5 linked regions of the Homo sapiens genome follow. The protein of the gene in region 1 purifies or fractionates together with the protein of each later gene. This does not show direct contact. Each region holds a gene or a part of one and is shown in the gene's direction. Other genes may lie near its edges.

Region 1 (3,385 bases):
TTCATGGCTTGCCCAATGTTGGAGGGGGAGAAGAGAGGAGAGGGATGAGATAAGCTCCTCCCACCCGGCTGACTCGCTGTGTGTCTCTTTTCTCACCCCAGGGCCTGGCCATGTCCCCTTTCGGAAGCCTGTTCCCTTACCCCTACACGTACATGGCCGCAGCGGCGGCCGCCTCCTCTGCGGCAGCCTCCAGCTCGGTGCACCGCCACCCCTTCCTCAATCTGAACACCATGCGCCCGCGGCTGCGCTACAGCCCCTACTCCATCCCGGTGCCGGTCCCGGACGGCAGCAGTCTGCTCACCACCGCCCTGCCCTCCATGGCGGCGGCCGCGGGGCCCCTGGACGGCAAAGTCGCCGCCCTGGCCGCCAGCCCGGCCTCGGTGGCAGTGGACTCGGGCTCTGAACTCAACAGCCGCTCCTCCACGCTCTCCTCCAGCTCCATGTCCTTGTCGCCCAAACTCTGCGCGGAGAAAGAGGCGGCCACCAGCGAACTGCAGAGCATCCAGCGGTTGGTTAGCGGCTTGGAAGCCAAGCCGGACAGGTCCCGCAGCGCGTCCCCGTAGACCCGTCCCAGACACGTCTTTTCATTCCAGTCCAGTTCAGGCTGCCGTGCACTTTGTCGGATATAAAATAAACCACGGGCCCGCCATGGCGTTAGCCCTTCCTTTTGCAGTTGCGTCTGGGAAGGGGCCCCGGACTCCCTCGAGAGAATGTGCTAGAGACAGCCCCTGTCTTCTTGGCGTGGTTTATATGTCCGGGATCTGGATCAGATTCTGGGGGCTCAGAAACGTCGGTTGCATTGAGCTACTGGGGGTAGGAGTTCCAACATTTATGTCCAGAGCAACTTCCAGCAAGGCTGGTCTGGGTCTCTGCCCACCAGGCGGGGAGGTGTTCAAAGACATCTCCCTCAGTGCGGATTTATATATATATTTTTCCTTCACTGTGTCAAGTGGAAACAAAAACAAAATCTTTCAAAAAAAAAATCGGGACAAGTGAACACATTAACATGATTCTGTTTGTGCAGATTAAAAACTTTATAGGGACTTGCATTATCGGTTCTCAATAAATTACTGAGCAGCTTTGTTTGGGGAGGGAAGTCCCTACCATCCTTGTTTAGTCTATATTAAGAAAATCTGTGTCTTTTTAATATTCTTGTGATGTTTTCAGAGCCGCTGTAGGTCTCTTCTTGCATGTCCACAGTAATGTATTTGTGGTTTTTATTTTGAACGCTTGCTTTTAGAGAGAAAACAATATAGCCCCCTACCCTTTTCCCAATCCTTTGCCCTCAAATCAGTGACCCAAGGGAGGGGGGGATTTAAAGGGAAGGAGTGGGCAAAACACATAAAATGAATTTATTATATCTAAGCTCTGTAGCAGGATTCATGTCGTTCTTTGACAGTTCTTTCTCTTTCCTGTATATGCAATAACAAGGTTTTAAAAAAATAATAAAGAAGTGAGACTATTAGACAAAGTATTTATGTAATTATTTGATAACTCTTGTAAATAGGTGGAATATGAATGCTTGGAAAATTAAACTTTAATTTATTGACATTGTACATAGCTCTGTGTAAATAGAATTGCAACTGTCAGGTTTTGTGTTCTTGTTTTCCTTTAGTTGGGTTTATTTCCAGGTCACAGAATTGCTGTTAACACTAGAAAACACACTTCCTGCACCAACACCAATACCCTTTCAAAAGAGTTGTCTGCAACATTTTTGTTTTCTTTTTTAATGTCCAAAAGTGGGGGAAAGTGCTATTTCCTATTTTCACCAAAATTGGGGAAGGAGTGCCACTTTCCAGCTCCACTTCAAATTCCTTAAAATATAACTGAGATTGCTGTGGGGAGGGAGGAGGGCAGAGGCTGCGGTTTGACTTTTTAATTTTTCTTTTGTTATTTGTATTTGCTAGTCTCTGATTTCCTCAAAACGAAGTGGAATTTACTACTGTTGTCAGTATCGGTGTTTTGAATTGGTGCCTGCCTATAGAGATATATTCACAGTTCAAAAGTCAGGTGCTGAGAGATGGTTTAAAGACAAATTCATGAAGGTATATTTTGTGTTATAGTTGTTGATGAGTTCTTTGGTTTTCTGTATTTTTCCCCCTCTCTTTAAAACATCACTGAAATTTCAATAAATTTTTATTGAAATGTCTTTGGGCCTTGTGTTAAATGTTTTTTCTTTGGGAACCTTTCCTGAAGATGGACAGTCAGGGGAGGGTTTAGTATCTTCTTGTTCTGAGTTTACCCCCTTCCCTTCGCCTTTAAATAATTAAGACCGCCCCCAGCGAACCAAAATGAGATGTCACTCAAGTTACAAAGCTAAAAACAAAAGTCCCTTACTTGAGCGAAGGGAGCCACTTCAATCTGAAATTACTTTTCCTTTAAATTAGGGAGCAAAGCAGGGAGACGGAAAGGGGCCTGATGAGAATACAGAAAGAAGGGTAATTTCAGATACTTTTAAGTTTTAATGGAAAAAGACTGATGTGCTCCCTAAGTCAGGTTTTCCCACCCGAATCCGACCAAAAGTAAGCTCGGCAAGTACGAATGTTTTTCGTTTTAAGCTCGCCCTCAGTTTTGACATCAATCTGGCGAATCCAAGTCGAAAATACCTTCTTGCACCAGTGTGTTTGGCTCGGGGAAAAGGCCAGCAGAATGCCCCAGCAGTCCGAGCGGGCTTGGCTAGGCAGCAACCCTCCAGGTTGTAGAAGTGGACAAGACGCAACGCCTTTCCACTCGGCAACCCCCCACACAGCCTGCAGTCCCTGGTGCCTCAAATTGAACCCGGCTGGCCCAAGGCGCCCCTACGAGGCCCCATCCATCCCGAGTTGTGCGTGCAAAGCGCGGCCAGCTCCGCGAAAACTTAGCTGTGTCACGCGAGGGAGGAGGGAAATTATCCCCGAAAGGGGAAAGGTAATTCCAGGGTGCACATTTCACCCCCTCCACGGCAAAAGTCACCCAGGAGGCTGACATCCTCCCCTAGTCTCCCCTTCAAACCCGTCTCCAGGCTGTTCGGGGAGTTGCCTTTTGAAGTTCAATTTATCTTTGAAACATTCAATAAAAAATGATGAGGCACTGTCAGTCTTTTGGTCTCCCGACCCCCAGCCTCGCCTCCGAGGTGTGTGTCTGTTGGGGGGCGGGGGCGGCACGGGAAGGTTCGAGGGTTAGTCCTTAGCCCTTTTCTTGCCCTGGGGGCCATGACGTGAAGACCCAGCTGGAGCCTGCCTGGCGGCTGCCTCCCTCCCCACCCCCCACCCGCCACCCCCTGGAGCCCGCCAGCCCGGCCCCAAGTCCCTGTCACCTTCAGGCCTCTTGAATGACCGGAGAGGAGGACGCCCCCTCCCTTCCCTCATCCTGTACTTGGAAGGGATCGAGGTCGAGACCTTTTGGA
Region 2 (4,674 bases), about 16 Mb from region 1:
AAGCCTGCTAAAAGTACTCTCACTGTAACTCTCCACAGCCGTCTATTTAAGATTTCTCGTAAGTTGACATAATTGTTCTTATGAGCAGCTATTTTTTTGGTGAAGGTTTTTTGGCTTCTGATTATAGAATGATTAGCCATTAGCAGCTTTTTAAAAAGAATTTCTCATATCTTGCTTTATTTGAAGTATTTCAGGCCAGGTTCCATGGCTCACGCCCGTAATCCTAGGACTTTGGGAGGCTCAGGCGGGCATAACATTTGGGGTCAGGAGTTCAAGACCAGCCTGGCCAACATGCTGAAACCCCGTCTCTACTAAAAATACAAAAATTAGCCGGGCGTGGTGGTGCACACCTGTAATCCCAGCTACTCAGGAGGCTGAGGCAGGAGAATCACTTGGACCTTGGATGCAGAGGTTGCAGTGAGCCAAGATTGCGCCACTGCACTCCAGCCTGGATAAGAGTGAGGCACAGTCTCAAAAAAAAAAAAAAAAAAGATTTGATTTGAGCCTGACAATTCTAGGTCAGAACATTTTTATTGTTAAAAACAGTAATTCCAGTACATAGTCAAATCATGACTGATTTTTCCCCCTAATATTATTGGAAAGTGAGCATTCCATACAACTTGATAATTTTAGCCTTTTTCGTAAAATTTACTTTGATGTTGCCATTGTTTAATTAGCCATTTTTTTGTTCAGTACTCTGATGTTTTTTCTGTGATCACTGAGGCATTTGTCAGGCTGTTTGCCACAGCCTTAAAAGGTATCCGTACTTTTGCTTCCTTTTTATTTGTTCAACCTTGGAAATTTATAGTTTTTCCAGTAAATACTGCCTTTGTAGAAATTAATTTTAAAACTTTCAAATTTTCCCTCAAAGTTTGTTTCAAGTTATTTTGACTATTTTTAGTAAACTGGTGGTACAGAAGTTAATCTGGTGACTAAACTGTGTCACAGGTGATAATTTAACCATGAAGTCTGTCAGATTTCCTTCCTAAGTCATAAACTAGCTACTAAAATAACTGTGTTACAAGGAGTTTACAGTCCTGTCTCCTATCCTTGGGGTGGAGATTGGTTCCAGGACCCGGCCATGGATATCAAACTCTGGGGATGCTTTAGTAAGTCCCTTAATATAAAGTGGTGTAGTAACCTACACACATCCTCCCTTATACTTCAGATCATCTCTAGATTACTTATAACGCCTAATACAATGTAAGTGCTATGTAAATAGTTGTTATACTGTATTTTTGTTAGTGTTTTTATTGTCGTATTGTCTTTTTTTTCCCCAAGTATTTTTGATCTGTGGTTGGTTGAATTCACATATGTAGAACCCAACTGTATTCATTTGGGAGAATGGAGAGCCAACTGTATTCATTTGGCCTTCTTAAGTTCTCATATGCTGTTTAAAGAAAATCATTTCTGGCCGGGCGCAGTGGCTCATGCCTGTAATCCCAGCACTTTGGGAGGCTGAGGTGGGCAGATAACGAGGTCAAGAGATCGAGACCATTCTGGCCAACATGTTGAAACCCCGTCTCTACTAAAAGTACAAAAATTAGCTGGGCGTGGTGGCGCACACCTGTACTCTCAGCTACTCGGGAGGCTGAGGCAGGAGAATCGCTTGAACCCGGGAGTCGGAGGTTGCAGTGAGCCAAGATTGCACCGCTGCGCTCCAGCCTGGCAACAGAGCGAGACTCCACCTCCAAAAAAAAAAGAAAAAGAAAAGAAAATCATTTCTATATATGTATCTAAGTGTAAGCCTGTATGGTAAAGTCTTAAACTTTCCTGGATTAATTTAAATTTTTAAGGATTATCAAAAAGTTAGTAAGTAGCATTCATGATCATTTAGATGAAAAATGTTAAGCCCAGTCTGGCTTTACTTTCCATGGTTCATGCTGATCTGTTTCCGTTGCCATTGGAGTTATATGCTTTAAGAAATGAAATATAATTTTTGGTTATTTAGGCTGTGTGCAGTGGTTTACAACTGTAATCCTAACACTTTGGGAGGCCAAGGTGGGCTGATCACTTGAGTCCAGGAGTTTGAGACCAGCCTGGGCAACATGGCAAAAACCCCATCTCTACAAAAAAAAAAAAAAACAAAAAAAAAAAACCACAGGCAAAAAGCCAAGGGTGGTGGTGCGCACCTGTAGTCCCAGCTATTTGGGAGACTGAGGTGGGAGGATCGCTTCAGCCTGGGAGGTGGGGGTTGCAGTGAACTGAGATGGAGCCACTGTACTCCAGCCCGGGTGACATAGCTAGACCCTGTATCATTAAAAAAAAAAAAAAAAAGGTTATTTAAAAGAAAATGTTACCCAAAGTCAGTTTTACTTTTAGTTGCTCTTTTGCATTTTTGATGCCATTACTATCTCTTTTAGATAGGTAATCCAAAATGGACTATTTTAACAACAATGTCTTTAAGTTACTTGCTTGGCTGTGCGGTTTGTATGATTACAGTTCAACTTAGAAAGTGTTCTCCAATAATGAGTTGCTCTTAATTTAATGGAATTGCTAAGGCCTAATATTACTATAAACCAATTTGGTAGTGAGTTTGCATGTTTATGTTATACAGGTTATTATCTAGTAAGTGAACACTTTAATTCATATGGAAATGATTACTGGACTTTGTTTACAGAAAGCCACAAAAAAAACTGATAAACCCAGACAAGAAGATAAAGATGATCTAGATGTAACAGAGCTCACTAATGAAGATCTTTTGGATCAGCTTGTGAAATACGGAGTGAATCCTGGTCCTATTGTGGGTAAGTTGATAAAATTTCAAATACAGTATCTTTTCTCTGAAGCAGGACCCCAAATTATTTTCTCCTTTTTGTTTAGCAGTTTAGGTTCCAAGGACTGGTTTGTCATTAATCATTTGTTATCAGCAGAACCTGTGTTTCTTTGACTGTAAATGAGTGAAATAAAATGAGAGGATTGAATTAGATAATCTCCAAAATTACCTCTATTGTTGAGATTGTTTTATATGGTGCTTATATCGTACTTTTTTTTTTTTTTTTTGGTTTTGTTTTGTTTTTTGTTTTTTTGAGACGGAGTCTTGCTCTGTCGCCCAGGCTGTAGTGCAGTGACGCGATCTCGGCTCCCTGCAAGCTCTGCCTCCCGGGTTCATGCCATTCTCCTGCCTCAGCCTCCTGAGTAGCTGGGACTACAGGCGCCCGCTGCCACGCCTGGCTAATTTTTTGTATTTTTCAGTAGAGATGGGATTTCACCGTGTTAGCAAGGATGGTCTCGATCTTCTGACCTTGTGATCCGCCTGCCTCGGCCTCCCAAAGTGCTGGGATTACAGGTGTGAGCCACCGTGCCTGGCCACTTATATCGTACTTCTGCTGAGACGTGGGTCTTGTATGACAATTGAGGAAAATCTGAGGTAACATAGCTGGGCAAATTTGCCCAAATAAATGAGTTAATGGCCGGGCGCAGTAGCTCACACCTGTAATCCCAACACTTTGGGAGGCCAAGATGGGAGGATTGCTTGTGCCCAGGAGTTGAAGAACAGCATGAGCAACATAGGGAGATCCCATCTCTGCAGAAAATTTTAAAATTAGCAGGGTGTGGTGTCACAAATCTATTGTCCCAGCTACTTAGGAGGCTGAGGCAGGAGGATTGCTTGAGATGGTGGGGGGAAGTCAAAGTTGCAGTGAGCCGTGATGGCTACTGTACTTCAGCCAGGGGCAGTGGAGCAAGACCCTGTCTCAAAAAAAATAAATAAATAAGGGAAAAAGAAAAAGTGAGTTAGTGACAGACTTCTTCTTAATGAAGTTATTAAATTCCTAGCCTAGTACCCTATTTTTTTTTTTTTTTTGAGACGGGGTTTCGCTCTTGTTGCCCAGGCTAGAGTACAATGGTGTGATCTTGGCTCACTGCAACCTCTGCCTCCCAGGTTCAAGCAGTTCTCCAGCCTCAGCTTCCCGAATAGCTGGGATTACAGGCACCTGCCACCATGCCCGGCTAATTTTTATATTTTTAGTAGAGATGGGGTTTTGCCATGTTGGCCAGGCTGGTCTGAAACTCCCGACCTCAGGTGATCCCACCCACCTCAGGCTCCCAAAGTGCTGGGATTACAGGTGTGAGCCACCGCGCTGAGCCCCTTTTTCATTTATCATTAAAAGTACCCTTTTGAAAGTCCTATCTTGATTGGAATTGAGGAATTATACCCTTAAAAAACAAAAACCTAGGACTAAATACACTGGATTTCCATCGTTGGATTACTTTTAGGTGATGAAGATTTTGCAGTGTTGATTATGCCTTAGTTTTGGAGGGTCTTAGCAATAACCTCAAGATGAGAAAATTCCATTTTATTATTATTTTTTTTTTTGACAAGGTCTTTGCTCTGTTGTCCACGCTGGAGTGCAGTGGCACAGTCATGGCTTACTGCAGCCTCAGCTTAGGCTCAAGCAGTCCCACCTCAGCCTCTCAAGTAGCTGGGAACACAGGCACGTGCCACCATTCCCGGCTAATTTTTGTAGTTTTTGTAGGGATGGGGGCACACTATATTGCCCAGGGTGGTCTTGAACTCCTGGGCTCAAGCAGTCCTCCCACTTAGGCCTCCCTAAGTCCTAGGATTACAGGCATGAGTCACTGCATCTGGTCTTGATCTTCTAAGTTACCTAAAATTGTGGACGCTAGAGATTTGGTAGGTTTTGCTATAGGTATAGTTGCAAATAAAGATTT
Region 3 (4,674 bases), on another chromosome or scaffold:
TGCACACCCTTCGATGGATGGTCAGAATTGTGTAAAAAATAAAACACATTCTTTGGGTGGCAATAGGGTGATAGCAAGCAATGTATATATATTTTTAAGAGTATTTTATTCCTTATACAAAATACATTATCTCAGGTACTCTTGTTGTTCTGAAGTTCTCTTAAATGAGCAAATGATAGGCCAGACGTCGTTATTTTGGGCTTCATATATATTTTTTAAAGCCAGGTGATTTTTTTTTTTTTTTTTTTTTTTTTTGAGATGCAGTCTCACTCTGTTGCTCAGGCTGTAGTGCAGGAGGCACGATCTTGGCTCACTACAACCTCCGCCTCCTGGGTTCAAGTGATTCTCCTGCCTCGGCCTCCCAAGTAGCTGGGATTACAGGCACATGCCACAATGTCTGGCTATCTTTTTTTGTATTTTTAGTAGAAATGGGGTTTCACCATGCTGCCCAGGCTGGCCTCAAACTCCTGACCTCAAGTGATCTGCTCGCTTCAGCCTCCCAAAGTGTTGGGATTCCAGGTGTGGGCCACCGCACTCAGGCCAGGCGATTTCTTGAATACAGCTTTCAGAATGTATTTATTGCAAGGACTGATACTGTAGGTGGATGACAAGGTCAGGAGATCGAGACCATCCTGGCTAACACGGTGAAACCCCGTCTCTACTAAAAAAAACCTAAAAATCAGCCAGGCGTGGTGGCGGGCGCCTGTAGTCCCAGCTACTCAGGAGGCTGAGACAGGAGAATGGCGTGAACCTGGGAGGCGGAGCTTGCAGTGAGCCGAGATGGCGCCAGTGCACTCCAGCCTGGGCGACAGAGCCAGACTCCATCTCAAAAAAAAAAAAAAAAAAAAAAAAGATAGATTGTGTAAGCCTTTATATAGATTACTAAGTTAAAAGTTTATTTTTAACCTATAATGAGAAATGCATGGTGGGGTCCTGTTAAAAATGTGCATTCTAAGTTCGAAGTCATGAGAATTTTATTTTCTTTTCTTTATTTTTGAGAGGGGGTCTCACTCTGTCGCCCAGGCCGGAATGCAGTGGCGCAATCTCGGCTCACTGCAACCTTCTCCTCCTGGGTTCAGGCAATTCTCCTGCCTCAGCCTCCCTAGTAGCTGGGACTACAGGTGCCTGGCACCACGCCAGGCTAATTTTTGTATTTTTAGTAGAGACCGAGTTTCACCATGTTGGCCAGGCTGGTCTTGAGCTCCTGACCTCAAGTGATCCTCCTGCCTCAGCCTCTCAAAGTGCTGAGATTACAGGCGTGAGCCACCGCGCCCAGCTGAGAATATTATAGTTTCGTTTCTAAAATTGCTCCACAAAGGAAAACCTCCCATCTTAGGGAGATTTTCTCTATCTTTATTTAAAATAACCAAGAAAAGCTTCATTTAAAATGTTTTAGAACATTCTACTTAGTCATATGACTTTAAATATAGTTTGATAAATAGTTTGTTATGTTCTGTATATGTTAAAGTCTAATTGAAGTAGCTTTGTCAAACACTGAAAGTAAGGGCCTCTTAATGACTGGTAGTAGAGGAAAGCCTTGCCACACACAGTCCACGTAATTATTTTTGTGTGGACATATTGTAAACCCCTACCAAACAGATTATTTTTTTAATCCTATTTGGTTAGGTCAGTTATGAAGATGTTTTAATTTTCTGAGCAAAAGTGTAGTTTCTTTAAAAATATATAATTCTTTTCAGCCTGTTTGTTGAGGCTTCGATAGACAGAACGTAGTTGTTGACAGTTTCAGGAGTCTCGTGAGATAGTAGAGCAATAGAGTCACATTGAATAACCCTTGGGATCATATAGGGCTTAGGGAGAATGGCATTGTTTGAAATTTTTTTTGTTGTTTTATTCTCCTACTTAGGGATTTACTTTATAAAAGTGGTAAAACATACTCAGTTTGTTACAAGTCAGATCCACTACCACAAATTCCCTTTAGTGGGCACACTTTTAAGTGTAGGCCCACTTATTTTAAGCAGCGTTTAACTGAGTGAAAGTCTAGTTTCATTAAAAGATCTGTTGATGTGGGTTATAATAGAGTTTGACTTGCATTAGTATCTAACTGTTTCTACTGAGACAGTGGTATTTGTGTTATTAACTTTTGGGAAAGAGGGAGTAGGGAATGATTTAGACATTAAATGTATTCCTTTCTGCCAGGCATGATAGTGTGGAGATTGAGGCTTGAGGCTCGATAACTTGAGCCCGGGAGTTCGAGGCCAGCCTGGGCAACATACTGAGACCCCATCTTTAAAAAAAAAAAAAATTATACACACACAAAATGCTTGGAATAATTTGTGTATTTTTTATCTCAAGTTTGTTTCAAATACTCACATTTCTGGACTATTTCCCCTATTGTTAAGTCTGCTTAATAAATGCCAGCTAGTTTTTATGCCATCAGAAGTGAAATTAAGAAGGCAGATGGACTAAAAGAATCACGTATAAGGGATTTTGAAGTGAAATACATTAAACTCTTGATTACTCTTAAACTATCCACTTTAACGGGTTCTACTTGGACCTTCTTGGTGGCAAGGCCATCTCCTCGGTGTAGGTTATGTGTCAACATTTTGTTCCATTGGCTGTTTTTCAAGTGTGAACTGTTATTTGAAAGGAGAAGGACACGCCAGGGGAGAGCGTGTGAACTGAATACTCAGTGATTTCCTTTAGCCCCAAGGGAAGGATGTATCTAAACACAAAAGCCCTGTCTTGCCGAGGGTTGGAGAGGGATCTGTGTTTCAGTGACTGGTCTGAGAGGAGATGGTTGCCATTTATCAGTAGGAGTCAACAAAAGGAAACTTAATACAGCCCGGCACAGTGGCTCACGCCTGTAATCCCAGCACTTTCGGAGGTTGAGGTGGGTGGATCCCTTGAGGCCAGGAGTTCAAGACCAGCCTGGCCAACATAGGGAAATCCCATCTTTACTAAAAATAAAAAAATTAGATGGACGTGGTGGCTCATGGCTGTAATCCTAGCTACTGAGGAGGCTGTGTCAGGAGAATAGCTTGAACCGGGGAGGTGGAGGTTCAGTGAGCCCAGATCGTGCCACTGCACTCCAGCCTGGGCCACAGAGTGAGACTGTCTCAAAAAAAAAAAAAAAAACCCAAAACTTAATAGCTTGTGTTTGAAAGTAGTTGCAAAACGCGACACCCTTGTTAAGAGTGAGTATGGCAGACACGTGGGGAGTGCCTTTGCTGCTGCTTCCCTCATTAGCACAGATACTTTGGAGTTGACGAACATGTGACGTTTGAAATTGAACGTATGCTTTCATTGAACATTGTACTTTTCCTGGGTCTTTACTAAGGAACATTCCTCATATACTAGACGAAATTGTATCAGATGCTTTCACATCACAAATAGAGCCATTTTGTATTTGATGTTTTGCTTTCAAAATTATGCAACAGTATATTTTGTTTTAACAGAATATAAATAATGCTGGGTAAGAAGAGTGGCCAACTGCCCGATAAGTTAAAATTCCAGTGAGAGAGAACTAGGAAAACTGAGCTCTTGAACAGCTCTGAAAACATTGCGTTGAGGTATCTAGCAATGTCATTTATTATGAATTGTTAGTCAAAACCTGTTTATATGATTTTTCACAGTGGTTTTATACCTAAAAGGCATTGGATCAAGAAACAAAGTTATTACAATTTGGGTCTTCTCTAATGAATTACCCTGTCCGTGTTTATTTAAGTGTAAATGAACATACAGTTATGTGCTGCTTTAATGATGTTTCAGTCAACAACAGACCGCATGTACGACAGTGGTCCCATAAGATTATAATGGAGCTAAACAATTTCTAGTGACCAGTGAGTTGTGTTACAGTTGCCTACGGTATTCAGTACACAACATGCTGTACGGGTTTGTAGCTTAGGAGCAATAGGCTCTAGCATATGGCCCAGGTGTGTAGTTGGCTATACCATCTAGGCATGTGATCCCACAATGACAAAATTGCCTAATGCCACATTTCTCAGAACATATCCCCATCATTAAGCATGGCTGTGTATCCTAAAACTGATCTTTATTTTGGCAGTTTATAAATCATGCATATATTTCCCCCCGCTCCTTGGGGGAAATGGTTTCTCAGATATTTTGCACTTCCTCTTCAAACTCTGAAGTACACAGGCAGTGGTCATGCGGCGTGATCTAAGTTAAAAAGGCGTGGCACCTGTTTACCGGGATCCACCCTTGTGGACTGAGAGTTTAGTCCACATCTGATTCGATGTTTGTAGCCTCACATTTATTATACATCTTTCCACTTCAGAAACATAAGTTGATCTGTAGTCAATGGGTAGTGGTACATTTTGGTCACTTTGCTGTCCTCCACCTGGTTAGATAACCAAGATAGTGTGTGTTCTTCCAAATTGATGGTAATGAGGAAAAGAAAAGCACTTGGAGAATGTTCTGGACAGTTAGAATGATGACAGAAAAGCAGGTCAACAACACCAGAATGTCGATTACGGGCCAGTTATTGAGCCCTAAGAATCAGAGTTCTGTACCTTGCATTTTCAGGGATTTTCAATGTTAATATGACCCCTAAGTCCTAATTTTAGGAAAACAGAATTTGATGTGTAAAATATGTGTAAGAATAATCATAGCTTATGATGACATAAAAGTTTACGATGCTGGTATTGCCTTTGAGTTGATAAACAATTTCAGTGGGCTGATTTGTGGCAGCCCTTG
Region 4 (4,674 bases), on another chromosome or scaffold:
CACAAACACAGACACACACACACAGGAGTACTGTTCAGTCTTAAAGAGGGGAAATCCTGTCATTTCAACATCATGGATAAACGTGGAGGACATAATGCAAAGTGAAATAAGCTAGGCACAAGGCATAAGCTATGCATGATCTCACTTCTTATGTTGAATCTAAAAAAATTGAACTCATAGAAACAGATAGTAAAACAGTGTTTGCTAGGGTGTAGGGGTGGGGTGAATGGGAGAAGGGACTGGTGAAATATTGGTCAAAGCATACACGATTTTAGTTAGGCAGGATGAATAAGTTCTGGGGATCTCATGAACAGCGTGGTGACTATAGTGAAAGTATAACTATTATATGCTTGAAATTTGTGAATACAGTATATTTTAAATGTCCTCACCACACACAAAAATATAGACTATATGAAGTGATGGATATGCTGATTAACTTGATTGTGGTAATCATTTCACAACGTACACATATATGAAAACATCATGGTGTATACCTTAAATATATACAATTTTTATTTGTCCATCATAACTCAATAAAGCTGGGAAAAAAAGACTAGGTGCATTTTGAGTAGGTAGAAAAGATATTTTTGGGTGAGGTACTGCCTGTCTTTAATGGCATGGAGACTGGACTGTGGAGAGTGTATTGAGGGACGGAGAGGGCCTGGCTGCTGTGGAGGATGTGTGCATGTCCATTGTGGGAGGTAAATGGAACAAGCGAGGTTAGGCTCAGATATAGATGGTTTTGCATGACTGGATTAGGAATTTGGACTTAATTCACAGGCACTGTAAATTCCTGAATGAGCAGTGGAGTGCTGAAGGAACAATTGAGGGAGGAAGGAGATTTGAATTGAGAGGCTAATTGGATAGTTATGTGTGTGGGAGGTAAGCTAGGTATTTAGGAATTGTGGCCCAACCTAGGTGAGTGAGAGGTGTGAGGAGGATAAATCAGGGACAGGAGAAACGTGATAGGATTTAATGGTTAATATTTACAGGTGTTGGTGTAGAAGAAAGAATTAAAGATTCCTACAAGGTTTTGTATTTGGGTAACTTGTTGAAATAAACATGTAACTCTTCTGGGCCTTTTAAAATAGAAGTTTCAGGCTTTTAAAGTTCGTTTGCTTTTGCATAATAATTAAATATTTAAATACCTTAGAGTAAGGCCTCCTTTCCTTTAATAGCATCTGTTTGAGAGTAGTGAGAAAGACTTGTAGACTCTTGTAGATCCCAGTTCTCCCCTTTTATATGGGCTTACATTGAGCAGCTGGAAATAGAGGTGGGAGGGGGGCCTACTTTAAAATATCATTGCTGTCTCTCAAGAGTTAACTTTATTTCTGCAGAGGAAAAATACCTTATTAGGAGTGATGGCCATGCCCAAAGAAATAAATCTCAGAATATTAGAGATAGAAGACATTTGGAAGCTAACCATATAAAAGATTTGAAAGAAAGCAAAACAGAGTTTAAGCTTATGATTGATTGTGTTTTGGAGACTTTCCAGTACCATCATGTATCTATAGATTAATGACTACATTGGTCGAGAGAATTTCTAAATGGCTGAGTCTTGATTTAAGTTTGAATTGAGTGCCTTTGGGAGACTTTAATTCATTTTTGTCCAACCACTCACTGAAAGCATTTGCTTAGAGCATTCAGAGATGGAATAGAGGGAATTTATGTTAACCAAATATAATTATTTCTTCTTTTACATCGCTTTCATTTGATTAATGGGGCAAGATTACTTTTCTAGTTGAAAGAAGATGTAAATAAGTATGAAATTATTTTGTTGCAGAATATGGCTCAAGCCTGGAAGATGACGTGGTGGGGGACACTTCAGGGTACTACCAGCGGATGTTGGTGGTTCTCCTTCAGGTATTGCGTGGAGATTAATTACAGTTTGATTAAAAAGCCTGAAGTTGGACTGGGCTGAATCTAGTTAAGTAAGGTCACTTAAAATTCTTTTAATAATTTGTGGTACTTGCTGATTCTTACTGCGATGATTCTGACTGTATGTTGCCTGTGCTTGTTTGTGTTTCAGAATATCTGGTCTAAATTCTTAACAGCTAACTCATACATGTTTTAGATAGTAGTATCTTGTTCCTTTCATAGAATGATAGCGGTATCTTGTTCTTTCATAGAATTTAAAATCAGTAGGGTCATTATTGGTTTTGGACAGTGCTGGGTGATGATAACGTGAAATAGTGCAGGATTGATCTTAATAAAAGCATATTATTCCTAGAGAAAGAGTGTTATTGAATAACCATCAGGTGGAACCATTTTTCCTTTTGAATGAGAATGCTCTATAGTTCAGTAATGTGACATATTACCTCTCATAGGCTAACAGAGACCCTGATGCTGGAATTGATGAAGCTCAAGTTGAACAAGATGCTCAGGTGAGTGACACCAGGATATGATGACTTTATTATGCTGTAGAAATGAAGAAATAATTCATGGTAATGAAAAATCACAATGTATGTTGTAATAGCTTCTAGTGATAATCTTGTTAATGGGTTATTTACATAGCATAAGACCTACATAAGTAGCTTTTTCTTATTCTGACCTGGTCAGCAAAATATTTTACCTTAAAGCTGAAACGAAATAAAATAAATTATATAGTGAGTTCCAACTAGACATGTTTTTTTTTGTGATTATTGAACATTCACAAAATAGAGAATTTTACCAAAAAACAGTGTTATTACTTCCACTGCCAATTATGCAGTGGGTCTCTTAGCAGGAGAAGATAAAGAAGAAAGAATAAAGTATTTAACAGTAAGTGGTGTTTAATTACATAAGAGATGACAAGTTATTTTGGTATTAGGAAATTTCTCTGCATTTCCTTCGACAGAATTTTAAGTAGGATTGGTCTTCTGTCAGCAGCTTTTTAGTGACTCCAAATGAAAATTTCCTCTTAAGTGACTTATAAACCCCTATAAAGTCTCAGTCTGGTTAATAAAACAGTTATTAAAATATAGGAAAGGAAATTTGAAACATGAGAGCTGAAAACTGGAAATTGGTAATAAAGGAATTACTTGGGTTCCTAGAACCACCAATCATAGACCTCTTTCTGGTCACATGTTTCAATTAAGAGAATATACAATTCTTGGTTGTTTGTCATGTATCATTGAAAAAGGAAGAGCCATATTCATTCCTCCAGTGGAACAACCCATGGATATGCGATCTCACTTTGCTAACAGGAAAGAGGAGAGCGGTTATTCTTTTGGGTAGGTTGATTTTATAATGGTTTCAGAATGCTGTCATCTCTGTCTAGCTGGAGAGAAAAAAAGAACTGAATGTTTACCGAGGGCTCTCTGTGCAGTATTTGACTCTTGCTTCACTCTGTCTTAGAAAATGCAAGCCAATTGTGTCCAGCCCCTTCAGACTCTGGTGGTTCCATTGCCCTCAGGATAAAGTCCGGGTTCCTGAATGGGTTACAAGCCCCTTTGTTATCTGTGTGTTGTTTACTTATGCCTCCAGCCTCTCTCACATGCTCTCTCTGCCCTCTTGCCCCTCCCACCCCGCTTCACCTGAGTCCTCTTCAAGAGTCAGTCTTCAGCTTAGATACTTTAGAGTTAGGTGCCCCTCACAGGGAAAACCATACCCCCCCCCGCCCCCAGGCTTCCTGTCACAGTTCTTGCCACGTTCTCTGGAAGCCATCTATTTACTTCACTGCCTTCCTGGGCCCCCTGAGCTGTCAGTTCAATTGTATCCTCAGCTTCTGGCATAGAGTAGGTGCTCAGTAAATAACTGATGAATGAATGAGCACATAACTCTACCAGAAAGGGGCAATTTCCCTTTTATGGATAAAGAAACAAACCCATGGCTTCCACTGAATAGCAGTGGAGTTGGAATTCCTAACGAGGCCTGTCTGACTCCAAAGCTCTTTCTCTTTCACTAGAAGATAGTCAGTGTTATTGAATATTAATATTTCACTATAAGAATATTTCACTGTAAGATATTCAGTGTTCTTGAGTATTAGTGCCTTCCCTGATTTTCTCTATCATTAAAGGGCTTATTAAATATCAACTCAAGCATAGATCTAGCTTAATTCCACCTTCTTTCGGGAAGAGGGCTAGAGCAACCCTACAGAGTTGTACTCCTGTTAGGGGCTTTGTTCAGTACTGAGGTGATCTTACTGCTTTCCAAGCATTGGTTGTGGCTTTGCTAGGAGATAGTGCTGATTCTCTCATTCCTACTGTCAAGAGTAGGATAGGAGTTCTGGGAGCTTTTCAGGGTCACAGTGTAAGAAACCAACTCTAGTCCTCTCAGATGTCTGCAGTGAGGCCTGCATTCACAGGCAGAGGGCAGATTTCCCAGCATAGTTGGTGATGTAATGAGAGCATTGCTGCAGCACGAGGCTCCTGAGGGGAAAACAGTACATTTTAACCTTGTTTTCATTGATTTCTGTCCTTGGAGCACTTACTGGATAGCACTGCTGCTCAAACTTTCATGGGCATGTGGCGCACCTGGGACCTTTAATTGCAGATTCTGATTCTATGGGTCTGGGCAGGGGCTGGGAGTCTGGATTTTGAACATGCTCTCAGGTAATGCCTGCATTCTTGGTCCTTTGATTACTGAGGCTGTATAGGTGACACTTACGTGTCATGCAGTGGATATAACCATTCAGAACCCTGAGAGTACATGTGAGACTGTACATGTGAAAACTGCTTTATGGAGTTACTTTAA
Region 5 (4,674 bases), on another chromosome or scaffold:
TGCACCGGGATCTCAGGGCAGCACTGAAAGTTTGCCCAGTGCACATGTCATGCTTGGAAAATCAGCCACCAGTAAGAGAGGGTGTGCCCACGCCCTTCATCCTGGGGCTCAGGGCGGGTTATCAACCTCCACTGGGCTTTTAAAGTGTGGTTTTCACAGAATCCTGAAATGCATGTCAGGAAAGGACTTACAGTGAGCCGACTAGCAAGAGTGAGAGGCATTTTGCCACCTGGAGTAAGAGTCAGACTGACAATTTGAGGAGGAGAAAAAGGTAGGAGGAAAAGGCAGTAGAACAGTTTTGATTTTTATTTCCTTTTATTTTATTTTTTAGAGACAGGGTCTTACTCTGTCATCCAGGCTGGAGTGCAGTGGCGCAGTCATGGCTCACTGCAGCCTCTAACTCTTGGGCTCAAGCGATCCTCTCTCCTTAGCTTCCTGAGTAGTGGAGACTACATGCATGCAGCACCATGCCTCGCTAATTTTTTTTTTCTTTTTGTAGAGATAGGGTCTCATCATGTGGCCCAGGCTGGTCTTCAACCTCCGGGCTCAAGCAGTCCTTCCTCCTCAGCCTCCCAAAGCACTGGGATTACAGGCATGAGCCACCACTCCCGGTGGCAGTTTTGCTTTTTAAGGCCCATTTCTCTGTAAGAGAGCCATGAGCTCACCTCACTGCTAAGCAATCGCGTGCAGGGCAGGAACGCCACTGACCTGTCTGCAGTGAGATGTGCGCTCCAGTGTTGATTGTGCTCTTTGGAGATATGCGGTGCTAACAGCCCCTTGAGTGGCACATGCATTATCCCTTCCACTCTTAGCACAGCCCTGCCAGTATCCAGAAGGGCCAGGGCCTTGAGCTGGGGCAAAGGGAGGAGGACCTGGAGGACGAGGAATGAAAAAGACCAACTCCTTGACACCACTTCTCTCTGCCTACAGGCTTCTCCCCGTTGAACTGTCAAAGGGCTGGGGTATCCTGGGTTTCTCTGTTTGCCCCTTTGCCCCTGGTTTGATGGCCAAGGGGGTTTCCCCCTGTGACACTGCAGTCAAGAGGGACAACATCCACTAGGTTGGGGGAGGAGTGAGCTAGAAGTGTCCGTGAAGGAGCTCCTGATGGTCTGGCCCTGTCCCTGCCCTCACAGCACTTTTCCTTGTTGACAATCACCACGAGGTGTACCTCTGGCAAGGCTGGTGGCCCATCGAGAACAAGATCACTGGTTCCGCCCGCATCCGCTGGGCCTCCGACCGGAAGAGTGCGATGGAGACTGTGCTCCAGTACTGCAAAGGTGAGGCTCCCTCTAACATGCCTGCAGCACGGAACAGATGGGGAAGCCCCTCAGGCATGCGCAGCCAGGAGACCCCCTTCCCCTTCTGTGCATGTCAGCCAGCATCCATCCATAAAGCCTGGCAGGTGGTGATGAAACCAATTTTTTCCCCTTTAACTTTTTGAGATGTATTAAGTTTTAGATTAGCGCATTCTCAGCTGCCAGCATGAAGAAGAACTAGTTTTTCTCTCTGATATTATGAGGCTAACTTGTTACCCTCAAGGATAAAGGCTGTATTGTGGAATGCCCCAGGCAGATTAAAACCCCGCTGTACTCGGGGTTGATCATGCTGAGAGACAAGTTGGCCTCTGCCCTGTACATTATCTGCAAGCACTACCACGCTGTTGGAGAATGGAGGTCTCCCCCAAACAGTGAACGGCCATTGCCAACCTTTTTATTATTCATTATTATTTTTAGTATTATATCCAAAGAGAAATACCCATAGTAAGTTCATGGTTCTTTACTATACACATGAAATTTCTAGTCTTTTATATAAAATGAAAATGCCAGTAATTAATCTTATTTAATTTTTATGGTTTCATTGACACAACTAGTTTAATGTCACTGAGTATGTGCAATGGATTCTCTTCCTGAAAAACTCTTTAGCAATAAATAACATATGAAACCTTCCACTCAATGTTATAGTGAATGTGGATGTATAAGATGCTGTCGTTCGCCGTCAGTCATTATGGGAGTTAATCCTGTGCTAGGAAATGAGACGGATGACTCTACAGGTGAATTCAGGAGGAAGAAAATGCTCCACCCAGAAGCTGCAGACAGAGCCTCTCTCTCCCTTCCAGGAATACACAGCGTTTTGTTAGGTTCAAGAAGTATAGACTCAGGTTGATTATAGGTCACTATGGTAGTCACAGGCATGAAACTAACAAACATCTTATATAAACATTATCCATGTGTTGTTATGAACTACTGGTAACTTGCATTTTAAGCATGAAGTCATGAGTTCTGGCAAAGAAGAAAAGATTTCAAGGGAAATCAGAGAAAGACAGGGTCTCCCTGGGGTCTACTGACATTGCAATCTGTGTAACTACAGGAAAAAATCTCAAGAAACCAGCCCCCAAGTCTTACCTTATCCACGCTGGTCTGGAGCCCCTGACATTCACCAATATGTTTCCCAGCTGGGAGCACAGAGAGGACATCGCTGAGATCACAGAGATGGTGAGCACGCTTTCCTGCCCTATGAAGGTGGCTCCTGCGCCTTTTGGATTGTGGGTTAACTTTACTTTGGGGAGAGCATCCAATTGCACTTTCAGAGTGGGAAAATATTTTTCCTTTTGCAACATCTTAACAAACCTACATAGAATTTGCTTAGGAAGAAGAGAAGTCTAATGGAAAATCAATTAACTATTTTAGTAATTTTCTACACGATACCCAAATTTTAAAAACTTAAAAGCAAAGGTGAGTTGAATCATGTTGAGGACTATATATGTACATAAAAGCTGCGAACTCTTCATTCTGTTTGCTAAGAACCTGTTGCTTGGCATTGCTTGTCTCTCAGTGTCCATGTGACGCACAACCAAACCCTCATGTTTCAGATGTTAACCTTGTGTAGAGGAGACACAAACGAAATCTGATGAATTAGTATGTTCAGAAAACTGAATGAATGGAGGTGCTGCGACTCCCTTATGATAAGGGATCACTCAACATCTCATTAATATTGTCTTTTATGAGACCACCTGGTATTTCTGCATGAGGCATTTATCATAACTTCTATCCACCAAAATATATTATAATCTAGAATGTTTTCTTTTCCAACCACACAGGAAAGAATTTTATTATAGCTATGTTGAATTTCTTATATATGAGCTATTAACATTGCTAGGAATAGCAAATCCAAGGATTTGTTTTGATTTGGTGAGAGATAGGTTTTTTACCATTTTGATTTTTTTTTACCATGTGAGAGCTGCTTTGCTTGGGGAAACGACCCAAGTGTATTTTATAGGAAATTCGAGTAATTTTAAACAAACAGAATCTACTTCTGCTTAGCAATGGAGAGGGCCTGTTGGGTAGTACAGACATCACTGCTCACCCTAACCTGTCTCCCTGGAGCCAAATGGACTTGATGTACACAGGGAAGGGGCTGACTTCAGCTTGGTGTCTGCCGCAGCCGGAACGAGATGTTTCTGTTCACTGCAACTGTGGTTTCGTGAAACCAGAAGGCTCTAGGGATTACGAGCTCTATGGCTGCTGCATGCAGTCTAAGTTCAGGAGTTACCAAATTGCCAGGGGTTCAGTCCAGGGCTTATTGCTCACTACACAGAAGAAAGCCAATCACTGAGACAAGCATAGCCAAGGAAGAAAGTTTATTTGGGTGCTACAGCCAAGGGGAACAGGACATAAGTCTCAAATCTGTGTCTCTGGCCTACTAAAATTAGGGATTTTTATAGCAGGGAAGAAATGTAACCATGTGTGGGAAACAGGAATTAGGGAGGGGTGAGGAAGAGGAGCTGGTCAACAGGAAGCGGGGGGTTGGTTAGGCATCATGGTGGGTAAGGGGTCTGGTAAGCTTCAGGTTTTGTTTTTGTTTTTTGAGACAGGGTCTTGCTCTGTTGCCCAGGCTGGAGTGCAGTGGTGTAATCACAGCTCACTGCAGCCTCCAGCTCCAGGCTCAGACAATCCTCCCACATCAGCCTCCCAGGTAGCTGGGACTACAAGCACACACCATAATGCCTGGCTAATTTGTTTTGTATTTTCAATGAGGTTTTGCCATGTCTCTCAGTCTGGTCTTGAACTCCTGAGCTCAAGCCATCTGCCCACCTCAGCCTCTCAAAGTGCTGGGATTACAAGCATGAGCCACTGCTGGCTTTTTGATACTATTGGAGATGCCTGATGGTTGGTTTCCTGAGAAAGGAACTCAGATAAGACAAATATAACTTTCTCGAATTTCAAGACTAGGAGAGTTAATTTCGACGTTTATTCCAAAGAAATCATAAACATCAGTTCTGTGGCACAGTTGAGCCACTTTCAGAAGGATATAACTCACCATCCTCCCTGTGTATTCACTATAGATCTTGGGGGTTAGCAGCGGGGCCATTTACTGTTGTGCAGGCCTGTGGGATTCCAGCCGGAGAAGAGTCAGGCTTCCCACACCAGCAAGTTATACAAATAATTAACATTCAGCAAGTGCCCACTCTGCACTAGGCACATCTCCAAGCACTTTACACTGATTTTCTCATTTATCACAACAGTCCATCAAGATATCTTATTATTATTCCCATTTTACTGGTGTGGGAGCAGAGACACAAAAACACGAAGTCACTTGGCCAAAGTGACTTTCAGTGAGTGGAGGAGTCAGTACTCAGACGCAGGCAAGATCATCCAAAATTCGCCTCTTCTTTTT

Evidence for each region.
Region 2: the proteins of TBX3 (region 1) and TMPO purify together in Homo sapiens (affinity purification with mass spectrometry, with the first as the bait; one large-scale study listed by BioGRID). This does not show direct contact.
Region 3: the proteins of TBX3 (region 1) and USP10 purify together in Homo sapiens (affinity purification with mass spectrometry, with the first as the bait; one large-scale study listed by BioGRID). This does not show direct contact.
Region 4: the proteins of TBX3 (region 1) and ANXA5 purify together in Homo sapiens (affinity purification with mass spectrometry; one study listed by BioGRID and IntAct). This does not show direct contact.
Region 5: the proteins of TBX3 (region 1) and SVIL purify together in Homo sapiens (affinity purification with mass spectrometry, with the first as the bait; one large-scale study listed by BioGRID). This does not show direct contact.

The regions. Positions count from the first base shown.
Region 1 is NC_000012.12:114,669,019-114,672,403, reverse strand, and holds the end of TBX3 (T-box transcription factor TBX3), read left to right. Parts: intron 1-101; coding exon 102-563; 3' UTR 564-2,149; downstream 2,150-3,385.
Region 2 is NC_000012.12:98,525,266-98,529,939, forward strand, and holds part of TMPO (thymopoietin), read left to right. Parts: intron 1-2,620; coding exon 2,621-2,747; intron 2,748-4,674. UniProt on the Homo sapiens protein: May help direct the assembly of the nuclear lamina and thereby help maintain the structural organization of the nuclear envelope. Possible receptor for attachment of lamin filaments to the inner nuclear membrane.
Region 3 is NC_000016.10:84,747,326-84,751,999, forward strand, and holds part of USP10 (ubiquitin carboxyl-terminal hydrolase 10), read left to right. Parts: intron 1-4,674. UniProt on the Homo sapiens protein: Hydrolase that can remove conjugated ubiquitin from target proteins such as p53/TP53, RPS2/us5, RPS3/us3, RPS10/eS10, BECN1, SNX3 and CFTR.
Region 4 is NC_000004.12:121,675,604-121,680,277, reverse strand, and holds part of ANXA5 (annexin A5), read left to right. Parts: exon of another isoform or gene 1-1,783; coding exon 1,784-1,863; intron 1,864-2,327; coding exon 2,328-2,384; intron 2,385-4,674. UniProt on the Homo sapiens protein: This protein is an anticoagulant protein that acts as an indirect inhibitor of the thromboplastin-specific complex, which is involved in the blood coagulation cascade.
Region 5 is NC_000010.11:29,460,095-29,464,768, reverse strand, and holds part of SVIL (supervillin), read left to right. Parts: intron 1-1,133; coding exon 1,134-1,277; intron 1,278-2,367; coding exon 2,368-2,492; intron 2,493-4,674.